Linked DNA regions of Homo sapiens. The protein of the gene in region 1 interacts with the protein of each later gene in a biochemical or structural test. Each region holds a gene or a part of one and is shown on either strand. Other genes may lie near its edges.

Region 1 (3,946 bases):
CCCAGCCAGCTTATACGTTCTTTCAACTCTGAGAAAGCATTAAAAGAGTGCAAGTACTGAATGCACGTAGTACTAAACAATTTAGGAGAACTCTTGAAAACAAGGTCTACAATGCTCACTCAGCTAGCTGCAAACTAATTTTTATTAAAAACATTAACGCTATTAACTACCCAAAAAGGTCATTAAAATACAGACAAAACCTACACACTAGACCAATGATTTAAGATCCCTTTAAGTTGCATATTTGGCTCCATTTTTTAAATAAACTGACTCGGCAAGTAGTTAACGTGCCTGTACCTCCACTATTCTATTCGCCTTAGGAAAGTATGAAGCTCAACTTAATCCTAAAAAACTCCTTCACATAAGAGCTACCTTTTGCCTTGACTTTCTTTATGACCTTGGGCAAAGTCTACCAAATGAGGATTATAATAATGTTTGTGTGTTCCTGTTTATTATTGAAAATTAACCATAACATCGTGCAAACAATAGTGAAATTCTCTAAACTGGACCTATCCAGAACTGAAAACCTGAGTTATAAATATCAACTGATATTCAATGTGAACAGTTTTTAAAATTTTAATTTGATTAGTGAAAACAAAAAAACCTACAAAGATCCCAAATTCAACATGATTAATAAATTCCGAAAACACCAACAGCCTCCTTATTACTTCTCTTTATGAACAATTGGTCTGCAATGTAATTTAAAAAAAAGGAAAGAAAAAGTAAAGAAATATAGTAAAACTAGCTTTAACACGCCATTTCCCTTTTCTAAGAATAAAAAATGGACCAGGAACGAAAATTTAAAACTGGGCGAAGAATGGGGAGACAAAGCAATCTACAATTTGAAAATTACACAGATAAATCCATCATTTCAAGTCACTAATTTGTATACCCACTGAAGAAATTCATCTTGGTACTGCGTTACCAGCATTAGGAAGATAAATCCCTGCCTCGGAGGAACATCTACTGAGTACGTTTCATTTCAGGATCTCAGGTAAGTTTACGAGCTCTTAGATCTCTTTAGGTTTCCCTAAGGTACGCTGAAGTGTTTAACATCATTCACACATCCAGCCACCACTAGGGTGAGAAGTAAATAAACAAGATTTACTTATGCAATTATTTACCACAGAACTCTGGTCAAGAATGCAAAAGTAAACACCCATACAGACATTTAAAATCCAAAGAAAGCAGAGAATATTAAGGATAATAAGGTTCACTCTTTAACTGACCACTGTGGAAACCAGACGCCTTCCACATGGACTGTTCTTTACTACCACTCCCGATTTGAAAAAGTAACAATGTCAACTCGAGATTTTAACAGTACAAAAGATAAACAGAACTTAGTCAAATCCCTTCTTCCAGATTCTGAAAAGGTGTTTATAAGAACTGAGATAAGAGCAACGCCCCCCTAAAAGCACCCTACTCCAAAGAATGAAATGCTGAAAACATGAGGTGGGCCAAAAAGGTTAAAAAAAGCTAAACTTCTAACTTAATTACCCAGAGGTTGGGGACTAGGAACTTGAGATCGGAGTGGGGGTGGGTAGCAAAGTGAAATCTAACCCCAGAAATCACAACGCAGGCCGCAACCTAAGAGGTGAAGCTGGCGGGAAGTGAGCTCCCTTTCTGTTCCCAGGGGAAAGTCCAGACAGGAGCGGCTCCGCACAGTGGACGTACGAGGCGCCAAAGAGTGCATGCCTACCAAGGCGCCAGAGCCGCTGGAGGACCAGGTTTAGAAGGGGAGGAGATCCCGGCAGACGGCCCTGGAAGAGGAGGAGGACTGAGATTGGAAGCAGCGGCGGCGTCTGGACGAAGGGGATTACCTAACTGTGACGACAGAGAAGTGTCCTCAGGCTCCGGCGATGGTCCCGACTGCGCAATGTGTGGTGTCTTTCCCGCTTACCCCGCAGCAGCAACAGAACCAGCTCCTTCAGCCAGTCGCCATTTCCCGCCTACCGACCTGCTGCACCGCACGGACAGGGACCCGGATGGAAAGCGGCCTCTCCGCGCAGGCGCCCTGACTTCCTCCTCCCCCTCCCGCCACAATTCCGCGAGGTGGGAGGGAAGGAATGCGGGCAGCCACAACGGCAACAACAACCAAAAAAACACTTTTACTTCCGTGAAGAGCGTTGAAGTTCCTTACGCCGGAAGAAACTCTCTAGTCTGAATCCTGGAGAAAAACTGAACACAAGGCCTTAGTACTGGGTCGATTAAGAAAGGACAAAACCTATCAGGATGAGCAAGGGCCTGGGGGATATTTGTACATTAGGGGCCTCCGTAGCCGGCTGTGTAGTGGTCGCAGGGGGAGTAGGGAGTAAAGCGTTAGGAGTGGAGAGGCGGGGACCCGAAGGACGGTTTTTCCTCCCGCTCCTAACGGAACTGCTTGGGCAGAGCTGGGAGGGGGAGCGCGCCCTTGCCCCGGAGGCGGGGCTTAGGAACGCGTAGTGCACCCTGGCGGCTAGGGTTTAGTAACTGTGGGCGCGCTGGGTAGGTGGAGCTGAGGGGATAAGGCGGGACTAACGGCTTGGCGCGCTGGAGGAGGTAGTTCGTAGGGAGAGCTGCCTGAGGCCGGGAGAAAGCGAATCTGGCGCCTTTCCTGGGATTTCGGTGGCCCTTGAAGGTTCCCTTTCCAGCTCATTGCCTAGAGGGCGTAGCAGTCGCTTTTGGATCATAAATATTCATGCCCTTCGACTCAACCCTATGTTGGCGGTGATTCTGCAGGTTGAAAACTCGGATCTTTCAGGCCAGTGGGCTCCCACCTGCGACCCTAGGTCAAAGGACGGTCAGCTCCACAGAGTGAAAATGTATCAGTCCAGAGAATCCAGTTCTAGTGGGGTATCGGAAAACCAAGCCTAGTGTTTGGAAGAACATTTTTCACTGAAACTCCAAGCCACTCTCCTTATTCAATCAAGAAATATTTATTGAAAAAATAACTAGGTGCGACGGGTAAAACAGTGAGCCAGGCAGACACGGATACTGCCTTCCCCAAAGGTAATGATTTTTTTTTTTTTTCGAGACGGAGTCTTCACTCTGTCGCCCAGGATGGAGTGCAGTGGCGCGATCTCGGCTCAAACCTCCACCTCCCGGGTTCAAGCGATTCTTCTGCCTCAGCCCCCCGAGAAGCTGGGATTACAGGCGCGCGCCACCACGACCGGCTAATTTTTGTATTTTTAGTAGAGACGGGGTTTCACCACGTTGGTCAGGCTGGTCTCGTACTCCTGACCTCGTGATCCGCCCGCTTCGGCCTCCCAAAGTGCTGGTATTACAGGCGTGAGCCACCGCGCCCGGCCAAAGATCATAATCTATTGAAGAAGACACCCAAGTAAACAGAATTTAAAAACTGATAAAGCGAATACAAGGATGGCATGATAGGCGTTGTAAAACACATGAGAGTGCCGGCGAGGGGGTCTGGGAAGGTTTCGTAAGATAACATCTGAGACAAAAAGGAGGAGTGTGTGTTGCAGGGGAAGAGTGTCTGGGTAAAGGAAACAACAGACGGAAAAGTCCAAAGATGAGACTGTGTTGAGCCATTGGAGAAGTAGTTCTGTGCGCTAAGAAAAGAGGATGGGAGGGCAGGGGGAAGATGGCAAGAGAGGCTGAGAAGTAAGCAGAAATAACATACCGTTGTGAATCTCATTATTTCGAAGTATGGAGCAGGTGGGTTGTCTTCTGAAAACCTTGTATACTACAGATTCTTCTGTCAGAGTTCATTTGCACCCTAAATCTTCCTAGTGCAAAAATGCTCTGAATGCGACATTTATTGGGAGCTGGTGGTATACACAGCACAGAACTATTAATAGTAACAGTCCACACACACAAAAATAGATTCCTGAAAAGTTCAATGGAATCCAACAAATAATTAGTTTATCCAGAGTGTATCATGGAAAGCAGTAAAATACCAACTAAACAGTTACCCCATTATTACTAAAGTTTATTTTATTTATTTATT
Region 2 (3,600 bases), on another chromosome or scaffold:
AGGGATTTTTACATTGGGCCAAATATCTAACCATTCTTCCTTCTACCATTTAAAATGCATTAAATATTTTGTTTCAAAAGTTATCTATCCATCCAGCATATTTTTTTAACCCTCAACAACTGTTTAAAACATCTCTTCAGTATAAAAAGCATACAACCTCCTCCAGCATCCTGATTTTTAGTAAGAAATCTTTTTTAAGATACTTGCATACTACTCCCCAAACAGTTTTCTCAAGTACCTATCTGGTCAAACTAGTTCTTGCCAATTTTCAAAGCATAAAAGTTAAATTTATCATTCTCAAGTTCCTTTTTTGGCTACTACCTTCATCTCTTGGTGTTAACAAACCTTGCACTGCTTTTCACTTTGACTTTTCAACTCCATCCCATAGCCCTTTTCTTCTTTCTTTAAAGATCAAACTAATTACTAGAGTCTTGTCTTCTCCAAAGGATACATTCTAAATTAAAAAAAAAAAAATAAATAATGTACTCACTTGTCATCTCTTTCAAGACAATGGACTAAAATGGGCAATATTCCAGATTTTATTAAGTCATCAATTGGTGGATTTCGATCACTGGACAAAAGCTTCCTGTAAGAGATAAAAACACTCCTGTGAAACTTAATAACATACAATATTATGATTAAATATAAATTCATATTTGACAAATATTAACATAAATCTGAATATTTGGTACAAGTGCCTTCTCTGAAATTAACAATTTATATAATGCAACCTTTTCTCTAAATTTATAAAAAGATATACAAATTAAATTTATAGAGATGACAAATAATTAGAAAAATAAGAATGTAGATATGAACCACTTTACTACCTTTTTTTTTTTGAGATGGAGTCTCACTCTGTTGCCCAGGCTAGAGTGCAGTGGCACAGTCTTGGCTCACTGCAAGCTCTGCCTTCTGGGTTCCAGTGATTCTCCTGCCTCAGTCTCCTGAGTAGCTGGGATTACAGGCGTGCGCCACCACACCCAGCTATTTTTGTATTTTTAGTAGAGACGGAGTTTCCTCATGTTTGCCAGGCTGGTCTTGAACTCCTGACTTCAGGTGATCCACCCGTCTTGGCCTCCCAAAGTGCTGGGATTACCGGCGTGAGCCACGGAGCCTGGCCACTTTACTACTTTTAATGGTACAACATTATTATTCCCTCAGTAAAGTCCTGATTGTGACTTATAAAAAGAAAACTAATTTTTAAAAAATACATGTTACTTTTGGACATAATTTTGAGTTCAGAGAAAAAAATGGGCAGATTTCTTCAACACAGCTTTTACCTTGCTAAGAAAGGAATTAAGAGGTCACCAAAATATCCAAAATTATTCACACTAGGTCACAAGAGAGTCAAATGACAAAAGCAGGTAGTCTGCTGAAATATGTTATAGCTGATATTAGTCCCTAATTCTTCCTTCTACTTTACACACCAAATTTAAGGCCATAAAAGTTCAACAACATTTTCATCTCAGCAACTAAAGAGAAATGGAATAAGCACAGCAACTGATAGGAAAACAGCCAGAGAGATGCTAGAGAATCTGAGGTAAAAAAGACAGACACATCACTGCTCTCATGGAGCTTATAAGATAAAAACAAAACCTAGTGTCTATTTTCACATGTGGGAGACTACAGGTTTAGCTGATAAGTCCTCAGTGTGGCCTAATCATATCTTTACCCACTGGAACACCCTGTATTACTATATAAAAGCAATGTTTATGAAAGCTTAACCAAATCATTTCCCTATATAAACTATGTGATGGCTGCTTATTTACTACCTTTATCAATGTAAACTCCTTGACCTAGCTTTAAACTACTTCACAAGTTGGCTCCATCTTATAACTAATCTTATTCTGTGTAACTAAACAATAGGTTAGTTGTCTGTCACAGCATTTCAACTGAAATAAGACTGAACCTATCCTAAACCCCTCACTTGAAATGCCCGGTCTTCTATGTATTCAAACTCTATTCAAAGTCCATTTCAAGTTCTATGTTTTACATAACACCATCTTTGAATTTCAAGAGGATTTATACAGCATAGCCCTACGTTTGGTGCTATCACTACTTATTTTTTTTGAGACAGGGTCTCAGTCTGTCACTCAGGCTGGAGTGCAGTGGTGCCACCTTGGCTCACTACAACCTCTGCTTCCCAGGTTCGAGCAATTCTCCCACCTCAGCCTCCCAAGTAGCTGGGATTACAGGCATGTGACACTACACCCAGCCAACTTTTATATTTTTAGTAGAGACGGGGGTTTCACCATGCTGGCCAGGCTGGTCTCAAACTCCTGACCTCAAGTGATCCCCTGGCCTCGGCGTCCCAAACTGCTGGGATTACAGGCGTTAAGCCACCGCGCCCAGCCCCCTATTTTTTAAAATACAGTTTTGCCTTTCCAATTAGCTTATAAAGTTCTTAAAGAGAAAGAATTATACCACATGCTATTTCCTCAACACATGGCACAGTGCTTAGCATTAAGTGGAAATTTAAAAAAAAAAAAAAAACCACTTCGAAGAAGTCTTAACCCAGCCTTCTCAAACAAGGTTTCATGAGATCAAGGGTCAAAATTTAATTTAAAAAATTTTTTTTACACTTCACTGAGGATATTTTAGAAGAGAAATGTCTTTTATTCTTTACATAATGGTGAATAATATAATTTTTACAAAATATAATATAAAACCAGTTTGGTGCCACTGTCTTGATTTGCATTAAGGAGCCCGCAATTTTACTCACAGTTGCTTTGCAATACCAGTGTAAACATTAACACAGTGAAAAAAAGGCAAATGAAGTCTTAGAATTATTTTGAAAATCAGTTTGCTCTTGCATACCCATGAAATTGTCTTGGAATCTCCCAGTGATCCACAGATCATACTTTGAAAACCTCTTAGGGTACACTGGGCTTTAATTTTCTTGCAGATTGCATGTTGAGAAGAACTGTCCCAAAACTATCCAATATTCAACTCTGACAATGGTGAGCATAATCGATTTCTTAATCATTCTTCCTATAAACATTAATTTGCTATTTTGCAATGTGAATGGTTCTGAGATTTTTCTGCCTACATAAAGAATTCCTCTCTAAGAAGTTCTTTTACCTCTGGTACACAATACTGTAATTTTATAACTTCCCTATCAGTTCTAAGTTATTTAAGGTGAATAAACAAATACTGGAAAAGTCTAATAAATATAAAACAGATTCGTGCAGCACTGGATAAGGTATTGGATAGACCTACAAACTTTTTCCACTTTCAAATTCTGTAACTAGGATCAGTTTCTTACTTGTCTCTTTCCTACTGATAAACTCAACATAGGGTGTTATTCTTATATTCATAAATATACAAAGCAACCACTAAATTGCATTATGATACAACCATGTCTTCCCCAACCTATTTATTAATACAAAGGTCTCAGTAATAGATTTTTCTGCCTCTTCCCTTAAAATATGAGAGCATAGGTTTTACAATAGAAATGTGCAAAACAGGCAGGGTATGGTGGTTCACGCCTGTAATCCCAGCACTTTGGGAGGCTGAGGCAGGTGGATCACAAGGTCAGGAGTTCAAGACCAGCCTGGCCAAGATGGTGAAACCCTGTCTCTACTAAAAATACAAAAATTA

The links. Proteins that work in one complex are often made in the same cells at the same time.
Region 2: the proteins of CTDSPL2 (region 1) and KPNA4 interact in a test that uses a peptide from one of them, tested with the Homo sapiens proteins (one study listed by BioGRID).

The regions. Positions count from the first base shown.
Region 1 is NC_000015.10:44,425,647-44,429,592, reverse strand, and holds the start of CTDSPL2 (CTD small phosphatase-like protein 2), read right to left. Parts: upstream 1,965-3,946; 5' UTR 1,821-1,964; exon of another isoform or gene 1,700-1,820; intron 1-1,699. UniProt on the Homo sapiens protein: Probable phosphatase.
Region 2 is NC_000003.12:160,530,972-160,534,571, forward strand, and holds part of KPNA4 (importin subunit alpha-3), read right to left. Parts: intron 587-3,600; coding exon 491-586; intron 1-490. UniProt on the Homo sapiens protein: Functions in nuclear protein import as an adapter protein for nuclear receptor KPNB1. Binds specifically and directly to substrates containing either a simple or bipartite NLS motif.